7 linked regions of the Homo sapiens genome follow. The protein of the gene in region 7 purifies or fractionates together with the protein of the main gene of each other region. This does not show direct contact. Each region holds a gene or a part of one and is shown on either strand. Other genes may lie near its edges.

The links.
Region 1: the proteins of DDAH1 (region 7) and LACTB2 fractionate together in Homo sapiens (co-fractionation; one large-scale study listed by BioGRID). This does not show direct contact.
Region 2: the proteins of DDAH1 (region 7) and ARCN1 fractionate together in Homo sapiens (co-fractionation; one large-scale study listed by BioGRID). This does not show direct contact.
Region 3: the proteins of DDAH1 (region 7) and GLOD4 fractionate together in Homo sapiens (co-fractionation; one large-scale study listed by BioGRID). This does not show direct contact.
Region 4: the proteins of DDAH1 (region 7) and EPB41L2 purify together in Homo sapiens (affinity purification with mass spectrometry; one large-scale study listed by BioGRID and IntAct). This does not show direct contact.
Region 5: the proteins of DDAH1 (region 7) and SDHAF3 purify together in Homo sapiens (co-immunoprecipitation; one large-scale study listed by IntAct). This does not show direct contact.
Region 6: the proteins of DDAH1 (region 7) and CLIC4 fractionate together in Homo sapiens (co-fractionation; one large-scale study listed by BioGRID). This does not show direct contact.

The regions. Positions count from the first base shown.
Region 1 is NC_000008.11:70,666,386-70,670,617, forward strand, and holds the start of LACTB2 (endoribonuclease LACTB2), read right to left. Parts: upstream 2,801-4,232; 5' UTR 2,736-2,800; coding exon 2,614-2,735; intron 1-2,613.
Region 2 is NC_000011.10:118,571,029-118,575,208, forward strand, and holds the start of ARCN1 (coatomer subunit delta), read left to right. Parts: upstream 1-1,380; 5' UTR 1,381-1,519; coding exon 1,520-1,522; intron 1,523-1,567; exon of another isoform or gene 1,568-4,180. UniProt on the Homo sapiens protein: Component of the coatomer, a cytosolic protein complex that binds to dilysine motifs and reversibly associates with Golgi non-clathrin-coated vesicles, which further mediate biosynthetic protein transport from the ER, via the Golgi up to the trans Golgi network.
Region 3 is NC_000017.11:772,281-775,780, forward strand, and holds part of GLOD4 (glyoxalase domain-containing protein 4), read right to left. Parts: coding exon 3,495-3,500; intron 1-3,494.
Region 4 is NC_000006.12:131,053,246-131,056,745, reverse strand, and holds part of EPB41L2 (band 4.1-like protein 2), read left to right. Parts: intron 1-3,500. UniProt on the Homo sapiens protein: Required for dynein-dynactin complex and NUMA1 recruitment at the mitotic cell cortex during anaphase.
Region 5 is NC_000007.14:97,179,481-97,182,263, forward strand, and holds the end of SDHAF3 (succinate dehydrogenase assembly factor 3, mitochondrial precursor), read left to right. Parts: intron 1-779; exon of another isoform or gene 780-869; intron 870-1,531; coding exon 1,532-1,735; 3' UTR 1,736-2,283; downstream 2,284-2,783. UniProt on the Homo sapiens protein: Plays an essential role in the assembly of succinate dehydrogenase (SDH), an enzyme complex (also referred to as respiratory complex II) that is a component of both the tricarboxylic acid (TCA) cycle and the mitochondrial electron transport chain, and which couples the oxidation of succinate to fumarate with the reduction of ubiquinone (coenzyme Q) to ubiquinol.
Region 6 is NC_000001.11:24,811,447-24,814,946, reverse strand, and holds part of CLIC4 (chloride intracellular channel protein 4), read right to left. Parts: intron 854-3,500; coding exon 728-853; intron 1-727. UniProt on the Homo sapiens protein: In the soluble state, catalyzes glutaredoxin-like thiol disulfide exchange reactions with reduced glutathione as electron donor. Can insert into membranes and form voltage-dependent multi-ion conductive channels.
Region 7 is NC_000001.11:85,350,160-85,353,659, forward strand, and holds part of DDAH1 (N(G),N(G)-dimethylarginine dimethylaminohydrolase 1), read right to left. Parts: intron 1,421-3,500; coding exon 1,347-1,420; intron 376-1,346; coding exon 256-375; intron 1-255. UniProt on the Homo sapiens protein: Hydrolyzes N(G),N(G)-dimethyl-L-arginine (ADMA) and N(G)-monomethyl-L-arginine (MMA) which act as inhibitors of NOS. Has therefore a role in the regulation of nitric oxide generation.

The sequences.
Region 1 (4,232 bases), on a different chromosome or scaffold from region 7:
AAAGGATGAATGAGATTAGCTGGGTAAAGAAGGGAGGAATGAGTGGAAGAAAGAGGAAAGCATGCGTGAAGGCCCTGAGACAGGGAATCACAAACCTCATCTGAGACACTAGAAGGCCAGCATGGCTGGAGTGGGAGAGGTTTGAGAGGAGCCTGATAAGACTGATGGAGGCCAGAATACACAAGGCCTTCCAGTTTTAATTCCTAAAATACCACTCAGGCTACAAAGGGAAGATTGGATTGAAGAGAGACAGAGGTAGTCGTACAGAAGCCAATTAGGAGGCTATTACAGTAGCCTAAGCAAGAGTTGTGCTGGCTTGGACTGAGTGACAGCAGGGGACATGAACAGATCTTCATAATGGCTTGGATATGCAGTAGGAAGCAAATAAATGTCAGGAAGGGTATTTAGGCATTTCCTTTGATGGCTTTGTTTATCAAGATATGAACAACTGAAGGAGGACCTGGCAGTTTTCTGGAAAGGTTATGAGTTCAGTATGGAAAACACTGAGTTCCAGGCAGCAGTGAGTCATGCAAATAGATTTAAAAGTTGGCTACTTGAGTCTGAAGATCAAGTTTGGAATTTGAACTTGAGCTATATATTTGGTAGTTAATAATAAACAGATAATAAAGGCAAAGCCAAATAAGTAGATGAGATCACCTAGGTAGAGAATACAGTAGAAGAACATGAGAGATGAGGATTATATACTGAATAACTAAAATAATTAAAGATTTGATAAAGAAGATGACTCTATCAAGGTGAAAGAGAAAGAGCAGCTCAAGAGGTAATAGGAAACCTGAAGAATGTGGTGTTGGCAAATTAAGGAGGGAGTCGTCAATGGTGTCAAAGCACTGAAGTTCAAGGAAGATGAGAACAGAAAAATACCATTGGGGTTAGTGATACAAAAGCCGCTTGTGATCTTAGAACTGTTTTGTGAAGCGGAACAGGTGGATACCAATCTCAGAACATCTGACAAGGGGCCAATTAATATTAACTTCTAGCCACCTTTTACTTTACACCTTTTACTTTATACAGTAGCATTATCTACACTTATTTCTAGCTCAACTATACGGACTCTCTAGTTCAACTATATGGAGAAATAATTTACATAGTGCAAGTAATTCCACTGGCCATTCCACTCCATTAATTTATGTGAGCAACAGTGTTAAGTAATTTAAGACGAGAGACTATAAATCTGCTTTTCCCTCAGTTAGTCTTTAAGTCTCTCTTAGCACTAGCACTTTGCTATGTTGAGTGTGATTATAGTGTTTAAAGATACAGTATGTATTTTTCATACAATATAGCCCCTCAACACAAGCCAATTTCTTCACCTGGTTTTCAAACAGAATCAGCCATCTGTTTCAACGCTGGAAAAAAGGCAGGTTGTGCTGAACTTACTGAGACAATACACTGATCTCCAACATGGTGTTCTTCTAAGAGACTTTCCAGGGTAATTCTGATAATATGCATCTTTTGTCTGAGGTATTGACTAGTTCAAGATGACACACTGTAGAGAGACCGCCTATGGATTTACTTGGTTGAGGGACTTCCAGCCAAGACAGACTGTACCCTAGAGATCTGGCATTTTTCCTGCTTAATTCTCTATCCTCCTAGATTCTGGTGGCAGCCTAAACCTTTGGTAACTACCTGACCCTGCCTTATTTACTCTGAACTTAATCTTTTACCTGCCCACTTTGCAGGTCTGCTGCTTCTAAAATTCTTATTTACTGGAAAAACGCCAAACAGTAGACACTTCCAAGGAAAACTCAATTAACTGTACTTACTAAATCGTTTTTAGTAATCAATTATATTTTAAAAATAATTTATGTCTTGACTGCACAATTAAATTCTATGCTCAAGAGAAACTACATTATCTGGGTTCATCCAGTAAAGACTACAAAAGTTGCTAAATGCCTAAGACTTACTATGCAGTAAACCAAATCTCCCATTCCTGCATAATTCCACTAAAACAGAATGCAGCTAAACAAGAGCAAAAGTATCTTCTTAGAAATACAGGTGTGTTACTGTGTCTGCAAATTAAACTCAAACAAGGTCACACACAATTGTAACAAAAAACTTCCCCAAATTACTTATGTCAGCTCCTCTTATGAGCCCACAGGCTGCAGAGAACCAATTTGGAAGCCAGGAGAATCCTGCCCTCTGCTGCTGAGTTGAGGAAATCGCCTCAACATAATTAATCGCTTTTGAGAAGGGAAGTTACACTCTGGGCAAAACACCAGTGAAAGTCAAGTGAGCAAAGTAAACGCTTTCTTGGACTCTTGACATCCGAATTTTCTCAACAGTTTAAACACGCACACCCTGGCATTCAAACATCAAGAACAGTAAATCGGGTTTCAAAACAGAAGTTTTTTTTTTTTTTTTTTTTTTTTTTTCCATTTCTCCCTAAATTAGAGAGCTATCACCTGGGGTGGTCGTATTTTAGCTAGCTTCGAGATCCGAGTGTCTGCGTGCAGTCCCGACGGGGCTGCTAGGCGCGGGGCTGCCCAGCTAGGGACAGGACGCGGCGCTCTCCACTGCCCGCGCAGCCGCGATCAGTCAAAGCCCGGGCTCCGGGGCCGGCTGCGAACGTTGGGGAGGTTGGAGAGGGACGTTTACCTGGGGCCGGTCCCCACTAGGTAGGTGTTGGTGCCTTGGAGGGTCATGGGACCCGGGTTACAGCCCAACACACGCACGACTCGATTGGACAGCCGCTCGACGCGCTGCAGTACAGCAGCCATTCCCGCCTCAGCCGCCCGCCGGCGTGTCGCCTATCTGGATACTCCAGCGCGGAAGAAGCCAACAGGCCGGGGATAGCGAGTAGCGTCCACGTGATGCCTCGCAACCCGGGAGGGAGGGGATTGGCCAGCGGCTGGTCCAGGTGTCATGTGACACCGCGGACGAGCCGGGGCGGGGATCCGGCAGCTAGGCCGGGGGGTGGGGGGGGCGGTGCGGAACTAGAGGTCACGTGACGCCGCGCGGGCTGCGCGGGCAGTGGTGGGAAGGCTGGCGCGAGGCGTGAGGTGGCGTGAGGCGAAGCTGGAATCTGCCTCTGTCACGGGGGCTGGTGCCTCACGGGTTTGTGTCCTAGACAGGCGAGTGGATCCAAGTGGGCGAGAGACATTTTAATCTGGAAGAGTCTTGTGATTTGGGAGACAGGTTTGGTAACCGTTCGTTATTCAGTAATAAATGTCAGGAAGGATTGCCAGATTTTTAGGCAGTGGCTCTGTGTGTGTGTGTGTGTGTGTGTGTGTGTGTGTAGTAGTAGTAGTAGTAGCCTGTTCATTTTTTTTTTTTTTTTTTTTGAGACGAAGTCTCGGTCTGTCGCCCAGGCTGGAGTGCAGTGGCGCGATCTCGGCTCACTGCAAGCCCCGCCTCCCGGGTTCACGCCATCCTCCTGCCTCGGCCTCCCGAGTAGCTGGGACTATAGGCGTCCGCCACCACGCCCGGCTAATTTTTTGTATTTTTAGTAGAGACCGGGTTTCATTGTGTTAGCCAGGAAGGTCTTGATCTCCTGACCTCGTGATCCGCCCGCCTCGGCCTCCCAAAGTGCTGGGATTACAGGCGTGAGCTACCACGCCGGGCCAGCCTGTTCATCTTTTATAATAAATAGTGGTAAGACATATTTACTTAGTACTTCCTACTATGCCTAAGTGCTTTCAACAAACATCCGACTTAACGCCCTTAATCCTCAGAACATTATTAAGAGGTGGACACTATTTTTGTTACAAATGAAAAACGGGGATTGGGCAGCTGCCCAGATGACAGAGTCTGCGTGTGCGGCCTTGCTCCTACCTGCCTCGCACTAACACTTGTCCCCCTCAGTGAGATTCAAGGAGCATGCCTCTGCCTGCCAGTGTTACCTGCCTGCCCAGAGAGCTAGGCTGGTCTTGTGGAGCCGTTTTGTGCCCAAGATGGAAGGGACTCATTTTCTCTGTAACAAGTCGGTTTCTTATCAGCCAAGTATTAACTATCCAGTGTTAACTACAGCTTCCCATAAAAAAAGTTGAGTTATAAATTACTTAAAAGAAAATACACAGATCCTGTAGACAGTTCCATCGAGTTATGACAATTGTATGTAATCACTGCCCCAAAGAGATGTAGAACATATCCACTGTAGCAGCCCACTCTTTTTTTTTTTAAAAAAAGGTGAGAAATTGACACATACAGTGCTTGGTGGCTTTTTTTTTTCCAGATATTTCTGATGAAGAAAACGATCTGCTCTTACCTATTTTATG
Region 2 (4,180 bases), on a different chromosome or scaffold from region 7:
CCATGCCTGGCTTAATTCCAGAATGTTTTAATTATTCCAGAAATAAATCTTACACTAATTAACTGTCACTCTCTATTCCTACCCTTCCTGAGCCCCTGGAAATCACTAAGCTAGTTTCTGTCTCTGTGGATTTTCTTCTATTCTGGATCTTTCGTATTAATGGAATCATATATGAGTGCCCCATTGTATCCGTCTTTTTTCACATAATATTCTCAAGGTTCATCCATATTGTAGCATGTCAGTACTTTATTCCTTTTTGTGACTAAATAATATTCCATTGCATATATATGCCACATCTATTGATGAATGGATTTGTTTGGATTGTCTCCACTTTTTGGCTACTATGAATAATGCTGCTATGAACATTAGAGTACACATTTTTGTGTTGACATATATTCAGTTCTCCTGGGTATGTACCTATGAGTGGAATTGCTCAGTCATGTGGTAATTTTGTTTAACTTTTTGAGGAACTGCCAAACTCTTTTCCAACGTGGCTGCACTATTTTACATTCATCCTCACCAACAATTATTATGATAGCCATCCTAGTGAGTGTGAAATGACGTCTCACCACGGGTCTGATTTCCATTTCCCTAAGGATATTCAACATTTCTTAATGTGCATATTAGCCATTTATATATCTTCTTTGGACACATATCTATTCAAATCTTTTGCTCATTTTAATTTTGTGTTTTCTACTCCCTCCATTTTGCAGATGAAGCCCATTTTTAGACAGGAATACTGTATTTGTCTTTTTATTGCTGAGTTATAAGAGTTCTTAGGCCAGGCGCGGTGGCTGACGCCTGTAATCCCAACATTGGGAGGCTGAGGCGGGCGGATCACTTGGGGTCAGAAGTTTGAGGCTAGCCTGGCCGACATGGTGAAACCCCGTCTCAACTAAAAATACAAAAAACAGCCGAGCGTGGTGTGGCGCGTGCCTGTAATCCCAGCTACTCCGGAGGCTGAGGCAGAAGAATCGCTTGAACCTGGGAAGTGGAGGTTGCAGTGAGCCGAGATCACGCCATTGCACTCCAGCCTGGGCGACAGAGTGAGACTCCATCTCAAAAAAAAAAAAAAAAAGTTCTTTATATATTCCGGATACTGGTCTTTTAGGCACACAGGTTATCCTGTATATTAAATAATAGTGGCTGTGCCAGCGGCTTGTTAAACTGTAAGATGTGACGCAAAATAAATGAAGGCGATGACAGTGAAAGGGGAGAGATACGAGGTTCCACAGCTGGAGGGTGAACGCCCCCTACACCTCCTGGGCTTAATCGTAACCGGAGCGGGGTACCCTCAATTTCCCCAGCCCACAGGCCCCGCCCCCCCCCCCGCCCTTTGACCTGCGCCGCTTCCGGTTGAAGACGTGGCTTGGGGCCGCCATCTTGGCAAGAGGCGAAGCGGCAGCGGTTCCTGTCAAGGGGGCAGCAGGTCCAGAGCTGCTGGTGCTCCCGTTCCCCAGACCCTACCCCTATCCCCAGTGGAGCCGGAGTGCGGGCGCGCCCCACCACCGCCCTCACCATGGTAAGATCCGAGCCAGGACCCGAACTCCTGGGGTCCGAGCCTCACCGTCTCTCCTTGTCGGCGGGCCTGGGGCAGGGGCCGGAGGAGCCCCGCCCTGAGGGTCTAGGGCAGAGTGCTTTTGCTCCGGGCTCGGGGAGCAGTGTGGCCTCCTGTGCCCGGTCTCCTGGAGATCCGATGGAGCTGACTCCAGTCCATCTGTCGTCGTGCCCGCTTCCGCACCACCCCCCAACCAGCTGGACTCCCTCGTTTGCTGGGACCTGCCCCTGAGACGGCCCGGCGTTTTTGCTCTGCGAGAACTTCGTGGTGGTGGTGCGGGTCCCAGGCTGCGGACCTCGGAACTGATGCTGTCCCGCCGGTTCCCTGGCGCTTAGGCTCAGCAGGCTGGGCCTGTCTCCGGAGGTTCTGGTCCTTCTGTTAATCAGAGCTTGTCTCCCACCCCCGGTGTTTGCTAGGCCGTTGATAACTCGAAATGCAAATCCACTGGTGTCCAGAAATTTTTCTTTTTGTTCAGAAGGGGGAAATGGAGACACAGAGCGGAAAGGAGTAACTTCTAACACTAATGTATAGGACCCAAGTGTCTCTGAAACCTTCCACTACTTCCGCAGAACTCACTTGTGTCCATTTGTTAGTGTGACTCGGGGTACATACACTGTGTAGACCACTGGGAAAATGTGAGCAGGTTCCAGAGAACACAGGGTTTGCCTTCAAGGAACTTATTGTCCAGGTGAAGAAAAATGTGTATGTGGCATGTCGTAGTCAGATGTCTCACAGGAGGTGGAGTAAGAGGGATGGGTTAGCCTCCGAGACCAGTTACTTGCCTTCCCATGCGTTATCTTTGTATACTCATCTGTTACAAGGATGAGAAAGGTTAATGTGGTTGAGGATGGAGGAAATCAGAACTGCTGACATCACTCAATCTTCCTTTATCGCTGTGATTTGTGGATATTCATGAAGTAGTAGACATTCTTTGGTTTCAAAAAAGCTAGTAATTTATTTTTCAGTGCACCTTATGTCCTTTAGTCTTTTGAAGGATGTTCTGTTCTGTTCTTTTTTATTCTTTTGTCAATAGATAACTTGATTTAAAACATCGTCCAGTGTACCTGAGAGATGGCAGAATGTAATTTGGTGGCAATCCTAATAAGTTCTATTGACAACCCTTTAGATAAGAACTTGGATAATGGGGGGAATTCATGCTTGGACTTTAGGCCACTGAACAGCTTTTCTCAGCCTCAGGTATATAAATTGCATCAAACAGGTTTGCCTCCTAAAATTTTTGTGTTGGACACAAAATTTCCAGAAACTTGTATTTTCAGTTTCTCCAGGAGGTTCTGTATTTGGTTAGTGATTTTGAAACTCAGTTCCCGTTTACACCCTGGAATTAATAATGCATTTTAGAGCATATTTTTATTTTAATAGTAAAGTTAAGGTCTTGTATTATATAAACCAGATAAAGGTAATCTTTCTAAAAATATTCTTTGTTAAAAGGTTCTTGGAACTTAGTATTTTTAATTCATTGATAACTGAGGGATGGTAAAGCCCTACGTGATATATATAAAATATAACTTTTGCATGCTATTTTGACATGTGTACGTATACATAGAGTTGTGTCACATATTTCTGAATTATTTGGGACTTAACATGATCCAGATACCCACAGATTTGTGTACTCTGGAGAACAATTTATCTCAGTACATTCTGCTCTGTAGAGTGTTAAGACATTGGTATGATTTCTGTGTAATGTTTTTGGGTCCTGCTCCTTTACAAACAGATCCCTGGACAGTAGAAATGTCCAGATAGGGTGAAATTTTTATCTAAAAGTTGTATCAAAATTTCCAGCGTTTATTTTAGCTCAACATTTCATTATGAAATTTTCCAACATCTGGAAAAGTTGAAAGAACTTTGTAGTGAATACCCATATAACCACCAACTAGATTCTATAACTAACATTTCACTATATTTTATCATGCATCTAATCATCCATCCATCCCTCTCTCCATTAAAAAAAAATATACATTTCAAAGTAAGTTGCAGATATCAGTACGTAAACATTGATTTTTTAAAAAATAAATTCCCTTTGGCTTTAGTTATTGAAGTGCAGAATGTCCTAGACTGCAAAGTTCCAATAGATAAATAAGTGAACAAATGCAGAAACAAATGCTTTCTCATGACTTCATCATAAAATAAAGTACAAAGAAAGGCATCTTTTGATTTTTTTTTTTTAAAGAGACAGGGTCTCACTATGTTGCCCAGGCTGGAGGGCAGTAGCTATTCACAGGCGCTATCATAGTGCACTGCGGCCTAGAACTCCTAGCCTCAAGCAATCCTCCCGCCTCCATATCCCAAGTAGCTGGGACTGTAGGCATGCGGGCCTTGATTTGATCTTTTTTTTGTATTCTGCAAATTAATGAGAACATGTTCTGACTTTTTTTCTTGTTTGTTTGGTTTTCGAGACGGATTCTCGCTCTGTCTCCAGGCTGGAGTGCAGTGGCACAATCTCAGCTCACTGCAACTTCTGCCTCCCGGGTTCAAGCTATCCTCCTGCCTCAGCCTCCTGAGTAGCTGGGACTGCAGGCGCCTGCCACCACGCCCAACTACTTTTTTGTATTTTTAGTAGATACGGGGTTTCACCATGTTAGCCAGGATAGTCTCGATCTCCTC
Region 3 (3,500 bases), on a different chromosome or scaffold from region 7:
AAACTTACATCTTCGAAATAAATGACAAAATACATTCCTGATGGGTTAAAAAAATAAGTTTAGAGAATGAAACCATGAAAATACTAGATACAGATGATTATTTATACAATTTTGGAGTAGAGGAAGATTTTTCTTTAAACCTGACACCAAAGATAGAAAAACTATGAAGAAAAAACTTCTGCTACATAAATTACACAAAATGGAAAACTCCTAGACAACAACCAAGAAAAGGAATTACAATCAAAACTAGAGTATACAACACAGTAGGGGGAACAACTGCAATATATTGGACAAAAAGTCCTTAATATGTAAATCACCTGTAAATATCAATAGGAAAAGAATGAACATGCTAGAAAAATAGGCAAAAGGCACAAAGCAATAATCCACAAAACAAGGAATTAGAATGGTCAAATAACATACGAAAAAATATTCAGGCCGGGCGCGGTGGCTCACGCCTGTAATCCCAGCACTTTGGGAGGCTGAGGTGGCAGGATCATGAGGTCAGGAGATAGAGACCATCCTGGCTAACACGGTGAAACCCCGTCTCTACTAAAAATACAAAAAATTAGCCGGGCGTGCTGGCGGGCGCCTGTGGTCCCAGCTACTCAGGAGGCTGAGGCAGGAGAATGGCGTGAACCCGGGAGGCGGAGCTTGCAGTGAGCCCAGAGCGCGCCACTGCACTCTAGCCTGGGCGACAGAGCGAGACTCTGTCTCAAAAAAAAAAAAAAAATTTCAACCCGACGCCCCCAAACAACAAAGAAATTAGAATTCACATAAAATCCTTTGTTAACTAATGTGCAAATAATGTTAAAAGTTGGCAGTGTTAACTGTGTTAGTGTAGAGGGGAAAATCACAATCATGTAATACAAGTGTAAATCAGTACATTTCTGGGCAATAGTTTGATGGAATGTACCAAAAGCTTTAAAAAGTGCTCATTGCTTTTGAAAGAACAAGTCCATTTTCAGCCACTCCAAAGGTAATTGTGGATGTATGAAGGGCTTTTACGACAAAGACATTCACCAGTGTTGCTTAGAACAATAAAACACTAGGAACGACATAAATATCCAACAATAGAGAATTGTTTCTCTTCCTACAATGTAATAATACGATGGAACTCCTAAAAAAGGATATACAGAAATGTATACACTTAATTATATATACGTATTTTTGACAAAAGATTGGAAAGATATACTCTAAAATGTCAGCAGTGGTTCTCTCTGGGTACATGGGTGTGTGTGTTTTTTTTCAGCTTCTCTGCTTGTCTAAGGAAAAAACTTGATTATTTTGTAAAAAGAATAAAAGTCATATTGAAACACCTACTGTTACTGGAAACTTTTCACATTGTAAAGTGACTTTCTAAAGAGCTGTTCCACGTCTCCATCTGACTACGATAAATTCAGTACATTTTTCTTTGGCTTTACTGCCTTAGTCCTGTTTGCTAGAACAGCAATATTGGGATTAAGACGCTGTTTCTCACAAGTGCCTCCGCCTGGCAGGCTCCATTTTTTTCTTTCCATTTACTTCAAAATCAACAAATCCCAGTTGACTTGGAGCCTGAAGGGACGCAGGACAGGAAGTTAACGCGTGGGTGAAGCTGCACAGAAGTGGGTAATTCAAAGGAAAGATGAATGCCAGCCGGACAGAAGGTCTGACCACATTGTCAACCAGAAATGCCCAAGGGGATTTCCATTCCAAAGAACAAAAGCTTCTTAGCACCATGGGGCTCTCTATTATTTTAAGCACTGAAATATCACTAAGGCTGGAGAGAAAAAATGGATGGTGGAGCTAGCTGCAAGCGTTAAGTTTTAAAGTCAGCAAAGGATCAATCACCTATCAACAAAAAAACACCATCAACACCCTTTAAATCACCAGTGAGGCAGAGAAACACCATCTCTCCACGAGTCCCACACAGCCAAGTCTAGCCTCCCACACTGGAACAGACGGATCTTTCTTTTGCTGAGCACCGGATGATAAACAAGGAGCACTGAACATTCTACAGACTCAGCATGGGGGCATCGGGGACAGGAGGCCGACCAGTGAAGAAGGAGAATTTCCAGGACTCCCTTCTCAGGCCCACTTGCAGGCATACGTTCACCAAGTAAGGGAGTCGGCACAAGTGCCCTTGCCATTCGCCAGCATTTTCCCCGTTTTTGCTTTTGTTTTGTCAGAGCAGGTAGCTGAATTTGCAGGCATTAAATACAAAATGAAACACTGATGAGGCTGCCTCTGCAGTCAACAAAACAAACCCTGCAAAGTTTCCTTCTTGTTCTGTGTGGCAGTCAGCGTGGGGGCTCCTCACTTCCATGCCATCCCTGAGTACCCACGCTCAAGTCTGGGAAACTGACCTCGGCTCCAGAGGAGGCATGGCTAAATGGTTTGGGGGTGATCCTATTTCTCTTGCCAGTGATTGGTTTAGGAGCAGGCACAGTATATCAAATCTGAACAGGAAGTTTGCTGGAAGATTCTAGGAAAGTTTTTCTTCTGCTCCTAAAAAGAAAGCAAAAAGGGCCGGGCACGGTGGTTCACGCCTGTCACCCCAGCACTTTGGGAGGCTGAGGCAGGCGGATCAAGTGAGGTCAGAAGTTCAAGACCAGCCTGGACAATATAGTGAAACCCTGTCTCTACTAAAAATACAAAAATGAGCTGGGCGTGGTGGCATGTGCCTGTAATCTCAGCTACTGGAGAGGCTGAGGCAGGAGAATCACTTGAACCTGGGAGGCGGAGGTTGCAAGTGAGCCGAGATTGCAGCACTGCACTCTAGCCTGGGCGACAGAGCAAGACTCCGTCTCAAAAAACAAATAATTTTTAAAAGTTAATAAAAATACTAAAAAAAAAAAAAAAAAAGCTGAGCGTGGTGGCAGGCGCCTATAATCCCAGCTACTTGGGAGGCTGAGGAAGGAGAATTGCTTGAACCCGGGAGGCAGAGGTTGCAGTGAGCAGAGATCATGCCAGTACACTCCAGCCGGACTGACAGAGTCTCAAAAAAAAAAAGCAAAAAGAAGTCAGCATCTCCTCTCCTACCAGATGGGATTGTGGGAGCATGTGGCCCCACCTGCTCCTGGCAGCTCTCCTGCAACCTTGAGGGGACTAGTTCTAGGAGAGGTACCCGCAGAGAACAACAGAACGTAGAAAGAGAAAATGTGGGGAGCTGGTGAATCATCTAACCTTGAAATCTTTCCCACCTATAGAATGCCTGCTCTGTGAGCTAAAAGATTCTATAACTGTTCAAAGTAGTTGGGTTTTCTGTTATTTACAGATGAAAGAATCATAAATCACTACATTACCAGTAGAACAGAACTAGTCTAGATCCCCTACTGCTATGTATTTAAGTTCTGATATGAGAATGTAGTCTCTCCGATAACAGGTAAAAGCACTGGCTGGGGAAGACACGTCACGTGAACACAGACTCTACAAAAAAAAGACAGGCAGCCCTCACTCTCCTTTCACCAAAGATGCCTTTAGACAGAGGCTTTTACTGGTTCTGGTATAATTACCTGACT
Region 4 (3,500 bases), on a different chromosome or scaffold from region 7:
AGGGGTTAAAAATCATACCTACCTCAGAGTTACATGAGGATTAAATGAACTAATGCTTATAAAATGCTTCATAGAGTGCCTGGCATCTGTAAAAATTGTTAGGTTAAGAAGAGACCTAGTGGGTTGGTTACTGGTGAATATGTGGTAAGCAGATTTTTTGCAGTGGTCAGGAATAATTATCTGTGTGGAAGTACAGTCTTTGAAATGAAACAGTAATTTCCTATGGTGATCACAAGTTAAAACCACTTTTTAACAATTTCAGTCCAGTATCTATAATGTTTGAGCTTTTAGAAACTCTTGTCTTAACTTCATTCTTTTTGTTAATTTACAAAAGAGCATATATATGGGAAAACAGTTGGGATCTAGTTTCAACAGCACAGGGATAATGTAGTCTTTTTTGTTATGTTGCCAGAGGTAACTGATTATAAATGTAAAATTGTGTGCATATGTTCTAACTTCTTCTCTCTATAACCACAGTAAACTTGTTGAAAAAAGCCTATTAGTGAGTAGAATTTTTGTTGACAATGTTTAAACCTCTGCATATGGCATTAAAATGTAACCTTTATAAATCTTTGTGTGAAATATACCTGCACACATATTTTCCAGCAACATCGTGTTTTAACTTGTTAGTTGCCAACATTAAGAAATCAGGTTTCATATAAATATCCTTATTTTAGGCTAGAAAAATTAGATGATGGTGTAGCACTTGGTCCACTGGGTCCACTGGGTCTATTGTGTCTATTGCTTCTGGTGCTGTCACGCATCAGCTGCTTTGCTTAACCTGTCCCTGACGCACGCATTTTATGCTCAGTTCTAGCTTTGTTCTAGGTTCCATTGTAAGTAATCCTGTAAGGCCTGAAGCTTTGATAATCAATAACCATGTAAAAAAAAAATAAGGAAGCTAATGGTTTTGCAGCACAGACTACACACCAGGTGCTATAATTGGTACTTTACATATGTTAATAACCCTGCTTCTTTTTTGCAGCACCATCTTGGAGTAGCTGGTGTGCTTATTTTACGGATGAGAAACTGAGGCTTAAAAATTGAATAAATGGCTCAAGGGCACCCAGCTTGTGTATGGCTAAAACCCTTGTTTTTTCTGTGAGTTCCAGTTATTGCTTTTAATTGTTCGATGTTATTACTCAGTAGAAGTTGAAGTTTTTTGCAATTTGTTGGCATCTGCAGTATCTAACTTTTATAAAAGACAGGATTGCTTTCCTGACTGGGTTCGCCCATGTAGTTTTTTGTGTAAAGGTATGATTATGAAGCAGACCTGAGTACTACTTTTAGTTGTGTGATTCTTGAATCATGCTGGAACAGGGAGTACCCTTCATCTTGTTTTTCAGACTAGAGACATTTAAAGTAATGTTTCTAGCCTGATTTTTCAATATTAGAAAAATATACCAGAGGATAAAACACATCAGAATAAAATGTGGCTCTCCCCCGACCTTTAGTTTCTGCCTTTCCTGTGGTTTTGCACTTTTTGCTTTCATTTAAAGTGCAAATGGCATTCTCCAGGGTGCTTTATATGATTTAGAAAGTCAGGTAGTACTGCAGGGATTATGAAAAAAAGCAGCAGACCAGTGCCCTAGCTCCCTTCTTGACAGATTTCTGCTCCCCTGAGGCAACTACTTGTTGGAGGCCAAAAGAATGAGGGTCATGATCAACTCAGTATACCACTGGAGGTTATATGAGTAAGCAGCAAACTGTTTTTCATAAATGCAGAATGTTGGCAAACTGACAGACTGCGTATGCCACCCAGAAGGAATGCTGAAGGCAGTCATGCCCAAAGCACAGTGTTTCTTGTGATTAGGTACATCTGAAGCCTGTTAGTAACAATATGAACCTGTGATCAATTAAGCAGCTGACCAATCCTTACCTCCTTCTCCCTGCTCTTGTTACCCAATAAATATGAAGGGCTGTGGAAGCTCAGGGGCTGCCTTTGCTCACTAGAAGCAGGGAGCTCTTTTCTTCTTCCCCTGGCCCTTCCTTTAAAACAGTTCCTTTTGTTTTTTTGTTATTTCCATGTTTGTCCCTTCCTTCAGTCTCGTAATGACGGTCTCAAGTAGTAACAGTAGTAACTGTTGTAGTGAAGGTCTCAAGTAGTAACTGTGGCAATGTGCCACAAGTGGCGCCCGAACAGGGACTATCAGTGACAAACAGAGACCTGAAGAGACCTGAAGGGACCTGAGGAGGCCTACAGGGACACATAGAGATAAGTAGGGATAAATAGAGATAGAGACAGATAGGGAAAGATAGGGACTTGCACCAACTTGGAGGAACTAACAGGGACCGTAGAGACAGACAGGGACAGACAGGGATAGATAAAGACTAGCAAATACTAGCAGAGACTAGCAAAGACTAGCAGAGACCAGCAGAAGCTAGCAGAAACTTGCAGGGACAGACAGGGACAGATAGAGACAGGGTCCTATAGGGACTTGAATGAGGAAGTTCTGCTGGAACAGAAAAAACTAAAACCAACCAGACAAATGAGAAACCCCGTTACAAGTCTGCTTGACAACATAAGGAGATGAACAAACTGTGTGGGTGCCCTCAAGGTGTGTGCGACCATGGAATGGAAGACTGGAGAGATCCATGGATTCTAGCTACAGGCCTTGTTCCCCTAATACGAGCCATGAGCCAGTTGAATCTGAATGCGAAGATGGAATGAGGACCGACCGGAGTCACACTGACATCAACCCTCATGACATGGGGATAGATCAAGAAAACCACACAGGAAGCTGAGACACTGTTAGTGTCAGGGTCAGGCAAAGACCCCTGACTCCATGTTTGTGGCCATGCTGGCCATGGTTTCCTGTGCCTCCCGTTGTAAGATCAGCTGGACCACCAACTGGCAATTAAGGGCTGCACAGCCTGTAGTTGCCTTTCTCAATTAATTAAAAAACAAAAAGGGAGAAACGTTGGAGGTCGAAAGAATGAGGGTTATGATCAACTCAGTATACCACTGGAGGCTATATGAGTAAGCAACAAAATGTTTCTCATAAATGTAGAATGTTGGCAAACTGACAAACTGTGTATGCCACCCAGAAGGAATGCTGAAGGCAGTCACGCCCCAAGTGCAGTGTTTCTTGTGATTAGGTACATCTGAAGCCTGTTAGTAACAATATGAACCTGCGATCAGTTAAGCAGCTGACCAGTTGCTACCTCCTCCTCCCTGTTCTTGTTACCCAATAAATACGAAGGGCTGTGGAGCTCAGGGGGGCTGCCTTTGCTGACTAGAAGCAGGGAGCTTTTCTTCCCCTGGCCTTTCCTTTAAAACAGTTTCTTTTTTTTTTTTTTTTTTTTTTTTTATCATTTCCATGTTCGTCCCTTCGTCCCGTCTCCTAATGAGGGTCTCAAGTAGTAACAGTAGTAACTGTTGTAGTGATGGTCTCAAGTAGTAACCGTGACAGTCTGCCACAACTACTTTCACTAGTTTTGGTTTTATTTTCTGGTGTTTTGTCTCTAAATAACATGATTTTCTTGTTTCTTGATTTTTT
Region 5 (2,783 bases), on a different chromosome or scaffold from region 7:
TTTTTTTTTTTGCTTTAACAATCAACATTCTTCTGCATGATACTTGTTCACATGTTTTAAAGTTTCTTTAGGATGGTAGGGTGATTTTTGCCTTGCCAGGAAACCTTTGGCAGTGTTTCGAGACATTTTAGATTATCAAGACGGGGAGAGGGGTGTTACTGCCATCTGGTGGTCAGAGACAAGAGATGCTGCTAAACATCCTGCAATGCAGACTCTCACTGACCCCTCCCCACCCCTACCCCCCCTACACACACAAAATAGTGCCAAGGTTGAAAAACCCTGCCTGCCCTGAAGCATATAGAAGTGGAATTGATAAAACTTGAAATGTTTTCATCTTAATAAGTGGATTTCTGTAAATCATGGAAAAAATATTTTCTCCATAGGTTTGGAATGTTTGGAATTAAAGTTGCTCTGGCAATGCTGCCATTCCAGCAATTACAAGCAATTTATATATCTCAAGCCAGATCAGGTAGCAGCATTATCCAGAGTTAGCCAGTTCATTCACTTTAACTTCATGAACTAAAATACTTTGGCACTTTGTCTGCTTAAAAGATTAATTTTAGAGTGAGTCTGTTTCAAAACAGTGGCACTTGTGCAGATGGGGATAGTTGGAATATTAGGCTGAATGTACTTAATAAGAGCAAAATTAGAACATGAAAAAGTTTTTCTTGACACAGATGGTTGTTAAACATTGAAGACTTAAAGGTTTAAGAAGTTTTTCTCTAGTATATTTTAAATTAAAATTGTAATTGAAGACATAGGAATGAATTTAGACTCACTTGAAGATGTGTTACATGTCACCGTGGAATACTGTGCTGCCATAAATAGGATGAAAGCATGTCCTTTGCAGCAACATAGATGCCATGATCCTAGGCAAATTAACACAGGAACAGAAAAATAAAATTTTAAGTGGGAGCTAAACATTGAGCACACATGGATGTAAACTGGGAACAGCTGACAGCATGGACTACTGGAGGGTGGTATGGGTTGAAAAGCTACATGTTGGGTATTGTGCTTACTCCCTGGGTGACAGGACCTGTACCCAAACTTGAGCATCATGCAGTTATTCCCATCTAACAAACCTGCACATGTACCCCTTGTATCTAGGGGATATATGTGCAGGTTTAAAATAAAAGTTGGGGGAAAAAAGACCCATGGTTCCTGTTTGAGAATCCGTTGAAAGCTATGGCCCCAGAAATGATGTCCGTACTTGTGTAAATACAATTTTGCATATGGTTTGAGGTGGTTTATGCATGCTTCTGAAGCCCATCCAGGGACTCACCACTCTTTACTTATATCCAGGTTAAAAATTTTGCTAAAAGTTGGTTAAAACACTTAAAGTGCTAAAAATAGATATACATGAAATGATCAATGAATTGTATCTTCACAACTATATTTATATCTCCTTAACCAAATGCTTCTGCATTTACTGATGAGGAAAAATAGGTGACTCAGAATTAGAATTCAAGTCCTCTAATGTTAAATATTATTTAAACTTTACATCTATAACCTTCATTCTTTATCTTTTTAGGTGTATGCAACAGCGTTATTGCAACAGGCTAACGAAAACAGACAAAATTCAACTGGAAAAGCATGTTTTGGCACCTTCCTCCCAGAAGAAAAACTTAATGACTTTCGTGATGAACAAATTGGACAGTTGCAGGAGCTGATGCAAGAAGCCACAAAACCCAATAGGCAATTTAGTATTTCTGAGTCTATGAAACCAAAATTTTAGTCTATACAACAAAGCTTAATAAGACATGCAAAAATTTAGAACCCCTACTTTAACTGTCATTGGTTTTTGAAATATATTTAAGCTTTGAAAACACCTGTTATTAATGAAATACTCTTTTATTTTGGATATTATGATTGCAGTATATGGATCAAGATCACTAGTGACAATTGAAAAAAACTATTGGAATAATAGCACTTGTATGAAATTCAGTTTTGGAACTAAACAGCAAATTTCTAGAATTTTGCTGAAAATGTTTTAAAATGCTATTCTCATCCAGCCATATTAGTCTTCTGGCTTTTCTTTAGCTTCATCAAATAAGCATGTTGTGATAATGATAGATGTACAATTCCAACAAGGTTATTATTTTTTAAATACATTGTCATTCTGAACATTTTATCACTTCTAGTTTAATAATACATACATGATTTTTCTTCTGAATGTCTCTTCTCCCTGCATCACTGTTCATTCACAATGAAAGGTTAGGAAGAAGCTTTAAAATTCACTATTTTACTATCAATCATTTGTATAATAAACTATACAAAGTATAATACGTTTCCTCCAGTGTTTGTTTGTTAATAACAACCCCTGAAATAATGTGTAGCTACATTGAGACTCTCATTTATCAACTAATAGTTGAGGACATTACAAATCAACTTAAGTATAAGAAACTTTCCTAAGATCTCAAATTTAAAAAACGGTAACCCCATTTACAACATAAAATGTGGATTTTAAAAAATATTATGCTAAATGACTTGTATCTTTAGTTATTGAAACCTGATTCCCAGTGTGATACTATTAGGTGGTAGAGCCCTCATGAATGGGATTAGTGCCCGTATAAAAAAAAAGCTCCAGGGAGATCTCTTGCCCCTTCTACCATATGAGGATACAGTGAGAAGATGTTAAAGCAGAAAGTGGCCCCTCATGAGACACTGAATCTGCTGGTGCCCTGGTCTTGTACTTTGCAGTCTCCAAAACGTGAGAAACAGATTTCTATTTATAAGCCACCCAGTTTAGGGTAATTTGTTATAGCAGCCCAAAGAGACTAAGA
Region 6 (3,500 bases), about 61 Mb from region 7:
ATATATCTGGACATGGAGGGCAACAGTCAAGTTAACCAGTAAGAAAGGTTTTGGTCAGTAGAAACAAAACATGTCAATTTTCAGGATAATGAAACTGGAAAAGCCTAAAAGAAACAAATAATGCTTTGAATCTATGCCAATATTACAGTATGATGCAAAGCTGCATATCTGCAATTTAGGTAACTATCATTACAGTACATCCAGGACCTAGAGATCTGGAACACCTCAAAGAAGTAAGTAAATAAAAACTCTGAATCCTAGGGACACAGTCGGAAAAGTCAATGTCCTTGGATTATAGCTTTAGAAAGTTACCTTTAAAATGAACTGAAATCAAATCTCATTGCAGTCCTGTGCCACACTCCTGCTAAGACATTCTTACTGGGTTCAGTTGGAATGTGTCTTTCCCCACCCCTTCTCCTCTTTAAACTTCTCTCTCAGTTTGAGACCTACAGTCCACAAATAACCAGTCTTTCCTGACCTATCAGACACATCCCAAATCTGTTTCTACCACATATTCTACAGCTTAGACAAATCCCCACCTTTCTTAGTATGGCTGATTGGCCTAGCTGGAAGCCAATTCTTATATCTGTGTAGCATTAATTATAAGAAACATAGAAGAGAGTCCTAGTCATTCCAAATTAATGCTGCGAGAAAGATCTCTACTGACAAATAACACAAGCTTCAAAGAAGTGACAATATTTTCATACGTATTTTCCTTGATACTCACTTGGGAGGGCATAAGACTTCTTCAAGAAATTCCTCAATCTTATTTACATCCGTTTTGACTTCACTGTTGAAAGTTATAAATGGTGGGTGGGTCCCGGGAGCCAAGTTCTGCAGGTCTGCTGGCTTCCTGTTGGGCAAAATATTGGTCAAAATCAGATCATTTTTTACTCTTAAACAACAATAATACTTTAAATTCTCAAAGTTGGCCAGGCACGGTGGCTTGCGTCTGTAGTCGTAGCACTACAGGAGGCTGAGGTGGGACACTGCTTAGCCCAGGAGTTTGAGACCCAGCCTGGGCAACATGGTAAGATCCTGTCTCCACAAAACATAAAAAATTAGCCAGGCATGGTGGTGCGTGTCTATAGTACCAGCTACCAGGGAGGCTGAGGTGGAAGGATCACTTGAGCCTGGGAAGTTGAGGCTGGAGTGAGCCATGATCGCACCACTGCACTCCAGCCTGGGCGACAGAGAGACCCTGTCTCAAAAAGAAAATAAATAAATTGTCCGGGCATGGTGGCTCATGTCTGTAATCCCAGCCCTTTGGGAGGCCGAGGCGGGTGGATCACCTGAGGTCAGGAGTTTGAGACCAGCTTGGCCAGCATGGTGAAACCCCATCTCTGCTAAAAATATAAAAATTAGCTGGGCATGGTGGTGCGCACCTGTAGTTCCAGCTACTTGGGAGGCTGAGGAAGGAGGATCACTTGAACCCGGGAGGCGGAGGTTGCAGTGAGCTGAGAATGTACCACTGCACTCCAGCCTAGGTGACAGAGTAAAACCCTGTCAGAAAAGAAAAAGAAAAAGAGAAAAAGAAAAAGAAAAGAGATCAAAGTGGTTCTAAAATTTAAAGTATATAAAACTGAATAAGAAATGGTATTTTTCAGCCGGGCACGGTGGCTCACGGCTGTAATCCCAGCACTTTGGGAGGCCAAGGCAGGAGGATCACGAGGTCAGAAGTTTGAGACCAGCCTGACCAACATGGTGAAACCCCATCTCTACTAAAAATACAAAAGTTAATTGGGCGTGGTGGCATGTGCCTGTAATCCCAGCTACTCAGGAGGCTGAGGCAGGAGAATCGCTTGAATCCCGGAAGCAGAGGCTGCAGTCAGCAGAGATCTCACCACAGCACTCCAGCCTGGGCGACAGAGCAAGACTCCATCTTAAAAAAAAAAAAAAAGAAAGAAAGAAAGAAAGAAAGGTATTTTTCAACCAGGTGTGGTGGCTCACGCCTCTAATCCCAGCATTTTGGGAGGCCAAGGTGGGCAGATCATGAGGTCAAGAGATTGAGACCCTCCTGGCCAACATGGTGAAACTCCGTCTCTGCTAAAAATATAAAAATTAGCTGGGCATGGTGGCATGCACCTGTAGTTCCAGCTACTTGGGAGGCTGAGGAAGGAGAACCACTTGAACCCGGGAGGCGGAGGTTACAGTGAGCCAAGATCGCACCACTGCACTCCAGCCTGGTGACAGAGCAATACTCTGTCTCAAAAAAAAGAAAGAAATAGTACTTTTCCACTAGATATAATAGCTGTAATAGTATTCTAATAAGAAGCAAGCCTCCACAAAATACATAATTTATGGTAAGAAAATGCTTTGATTTTTTTTTTAACCAAAATACAAAATCCATCATTCTCATTCCAAATTAACTAAGTCACTCATTAGAGATAGTGATAGAATGAGGAGGGAAAAAAGATTTTGGAGAGTTAGTGTCTGGTTTCAACTCTGGCCCCAACTAATTGTGTAAAGATGGGTAAGTCATGACTTCCCTAGGCCTTTTTTTTTCTTTTTGGCAAAATAAAAGAGAAAAGCAGCTGAATCCTGCAGTCATCTTCAACTTCAAAAGATTCCAAATTCTGGTGCTATTTCTTTCCCATTATTCTAGAAGTCCAGGCTTGACAAGGAAAAGGATCACCAGATTAGACTATCTAATATCAAAATTACTTCAATACATAAAAGATGGCATAATGAAGGGTAAAAAGCAACAAAGAATGGACAAAGTACTGAGTGAGAAAAGCTTAAAATCTACATTACCTAAGGATTTTGTCCAAATTCATTCCAAAGGTCATCAAAAAAATCAAATAGGTATGGGTCAAAAGAAATTGATGAGAGACAGATAAAACAAGTGAACACACAGAAAAATGTAAAATAGCACAACTATAAAGGGAATTTAAAAGTAAACAATAAGATGTCTTCCTCCTGTTGATTAGGAAAAATTGAAAACACCACAAAACACTGATAAAGATGGTGAAACTGTTATGCTGACAACTACTAACAGCAAGAAGTGTTTGTACTATCTTGTTAAAAAAGCAAAATGGCTCACCCAAACCCACCAATGAATTTTAGGATCAAAAAATGAGATGACCAGATATGGTGTGTTTCCTATGGCACCATGAAGTATTCTTACCAAAGAAGTTGACCCTGAATCTAATCAAGCCTCTGGGGCAGGCTGGGTGCAGTGGCTCATACCTGTAACATTAGCACTTTGAGAGGCCAAGGCAGGAGGATTGCTTGAGTCCAGGAGTTCAAGCGAGACCAGCCTGGGCAACATAGTGAGATCCCATCTCTATAAAAAAATTTTTTTTAATTAGCTGGGTGTGGTGGCATGTGCCTGTAGTCCCAGCTACTTGGGAGGCTGAGATGGGAGGATTGGTTGAGCCCAGGCGGTCGAGGCTGCAGTGAACAGTGATCATATCACTGCACTTCAGCCTGGGCAACAGAGTGAGACCCTGTCTCAAAACAACAACAACAACAAACCAAAACAAAGCAGCCTCTGGGGC
Region 7 (3,500 bases):
TTGAATCATGGCCTTTTTTTTAGGAAATCTGGTGTGTAACTAAAAACAGTTCACCAGTGAAGAGTTCTTCCTACACTTAGGTGTTCCTGGCTTCTAATGAATGTGAGGTCACAACAGTGCACATCACAGAAGCTCAAATACCTGCCTGTTCTCTCCCTGCCAACCCTGCTTGTTACTCCCCCAGCAGAGAGAATGTGAAAAACCCTGTGGCAGGCACCCCCACTACATTTAGAAGGAGCACAGTTTTGTATTTACCTTAAGGGCCTTCTGTGCAGATTCACTAGACCCAATTGCGATCAGGTTAGGCCCAGCCATGCTGCAGAAACTCTTCAAATGCAACCCATCTGCCACTGGCACTGTGGAGACTGCATAGTCCTACGTGGACAATAGAAAAACAAGCAGTTTAGTATTGCAGAATAATTCTAAAACTGATTAAAAACCTCCCTGAAATACACCTACTTCTTGAAGGCTGACAGGGACCTTGAATATTTGGAAGAAAAACTGGGACCCACAGATTTGGATATTGCTAGTTAAACGAAGACTGCTTCTAAGAAGACAGTAGAGTCACCAGATGTGTGACTGCTGCAACATCTTTGCTGGCTGTTTGATCTATGGAGTGGGCTACTCTGGGAGGGTGTATTTGAATATCCTGTGTAAACAGTGGCTCAGCTGGAGACTCACATCCTCATGGGGAACGGAGCATCTTGAGAGTTATATCCCTTCCTATGCAGTGTAGAGAGCCAATCTATTAATAATCAATAGAGTAAAGGGACCTTAAGAGGATGTACGTGCAACACCTAGCACAGTTTACAGCACACAGAAGGCACTCAAGCACAGGTGACCCCTGATTCCAATCTAAAAAAAATCTGTATTTCATAACAGAGTCAATTGGGTTTCCAAGTTTTTTTTTTTTTTTTTTAGAAACAGGGTCTCACCATGTTGCCCAGGCTCATTTGGAACTCCTGGGCTCATGCAATCCTCCTGCCTTGGCCTCCCAAAGTGCTGGGATTATAGGTGTGAGCCATCACGCCCGGCCTTCCAGATTTTTTTTTAAGTTGTTGATTGTTCCAGGAACATCTGCCAGGTGGTTGTATAATTATACACTGGGAGAAGACAGAAGATGCCCATGCTAACTTAGTTGTTCTTGTGGTAGCCCAGTGAAGCTGAATTATTGAGGAATTTGAATTTTATAGCTTCTAAAACTTCTAGTAAATGTACAAACATTACGAATTATTGTACAAAGCCAGTGAAGCGTAAACACCATTACTCATGACATTGATTCAATGGTTCTATGATTATTTATTAAGTAATTGCTTTGTGCCAGGCATAAACTACCTTTTACCTACCTTAAAAGTATCAGCCAAGATTTCAGCACCTCGTTGATTTGTCCTTTTGGAAAGGCCCACAAAAAATTCTCTGCCTGTAATAGATGTCATGGAACATAGTGAGCAGGTGGCACCAGTGACTGTACATCATTTCTTTTATCTATAAATAATGACCTTAAAGCATCACACAGTTCTCTCTTACCACAGAGAACAGCTTCACTAAAGAGACTACAAAAAATGATTTCAAACTACTGCCCTTAAGAATAAACTTTTTCAAATTCAAAAGGGCAGAAAGCAGGATGGTGGTTTCCAGGAGCCATGGGGAAGGGTAAATGGGGAGTTATTGTTTAATGGATAGGAAGTTTCAGTTTGGGAAGATGAAAAAGTTCTGGAGATGCCTGGTGGTGATGGTTGCCTAACACTGTGAATGTTCATGCCTCTGAACTGTACACTTAAAAATGGTTAAAATGGTAAATTTTATGTTATGTATATTTTACTACAATAGGAATGAAATTTTTATTTAGGCAATAATAAACACATTGATAATCTCTGATCAGAAATTAAGTAATAGCAATGACAATTTAACAGTAAAACAGTTCCTCAAATAACATCATTTTGCTCAACTTTGATGAGGAAAAAGAAAAAATTGATTCTGAGCTGGGGCCATGGTCTGTAGGGAGTTTGTACATTCTCTCTAGGCCTGCGTGGGTTTCCTCCCACATCCCAGAGCTGTGCACAGCAGGTGAATTTTCATGTTTACAGGGTCCCAGTCTGAGCAAGTGTGGGTGTGTGTGGGTGAGTGTGCTGTGATGGGACGGTGTCCTGTCCAGGGTGGGTTGCCGCCTTGCACCCCGAGCTTCCAGGATAGCCTCCAGCCACCCTTGATGACCCTGAACTGGAAGAAGTGCCTTAGAAAATGAATGGATACAAATGATTGTAATAAAGCATCCAATAATCATACAAATGTACAACAATAAATGATGTCGTAGGAAAGTGCTCAATGAGCCCACCATATTTGTGATTGTTTTGAGCTGTATGGTGGGAGGAGGGGCTCCTTACAGTTTTATCTTTGCAAATATTTATTCCCTGATTTAACCCACCACCACAACTGCTGTTACTCAGTAATTGGCCAAAAATTGGGCAATTATCTTGTTTTTATTAATTTAAAAAAATGTGCATATGGCTGACATTTATTTCAATGCTTAATATTATAAGTGTTTTGGGTTTTGATTTAGAAGCTGGGTGATATTTTTGTGACTAGAAATATGCCAGAGGAACTTAACTCTTGTTTATATTAGCCTATGGTAAAAATGGTTTTGTTATATGTCACTTCGCTTAAAAGTCACAGTTTCCATGAACCTATCAACATTGTTAAGTGAGAATTTATTATACTACCTTTTTTTTTTTCACTAAAAGAACAGTACTAGACATTGTTGATAAATTCGGATTCTTTTCTTATAAAATGATCACGTGAGGCCTGAGGAAACAATCTGGGGAAAGTGAGTTAAGTGCTGACTGGTCTTCAGGTCTGACCTCTAAAAGCCGTGTCTTTGAAACTACACATTCCATATATTTGAAATCAAAACATCAAAAGATACCTATGTACAAAGTACAAAATTTCTGCAGGATGAAACTTCATTCTTATTTGACTTTTCTGAAATTCAGCAGTTTTTCTACTCAGAAGGCAAAACACTAGATAAAAATGGTCTCTTAGTTATAGGCAAATAATTATAGTATGGAGTTAGGCAATACATAAATGTGGGAACTCTCATCTTCCCTTTATTTATTGAAATTCCACATAATATGTGGAAAAGATATTCAAAGAGAAATTAGTATCTTTTTGCCTCAGAGTATTATGGTGAAGTATAAGAAGAGTAGCCATGCAGAAGTGCTTGATAGATTTTATAAATATTATAACTTTAATCTTCATAATGTCCTTATTAAACGGGCAAATGACATAGGTCAGGTGATGTTACGACAATATCCAAGGGCTTATGTTGTTGGCAGACACAGGAATCTTTTGTGGCACACTGACAGTTTTTTGGGTAATGGCATGATTGTGTTGTCCTTTAAGAAAACTCATTATATAAAGATCAAAATTTAACTCAAGGAGAGGTATTTTACTTGAAAAAAGTATTATGCACTTTATTAAATAGTCAGCTACAATGAAAAAAT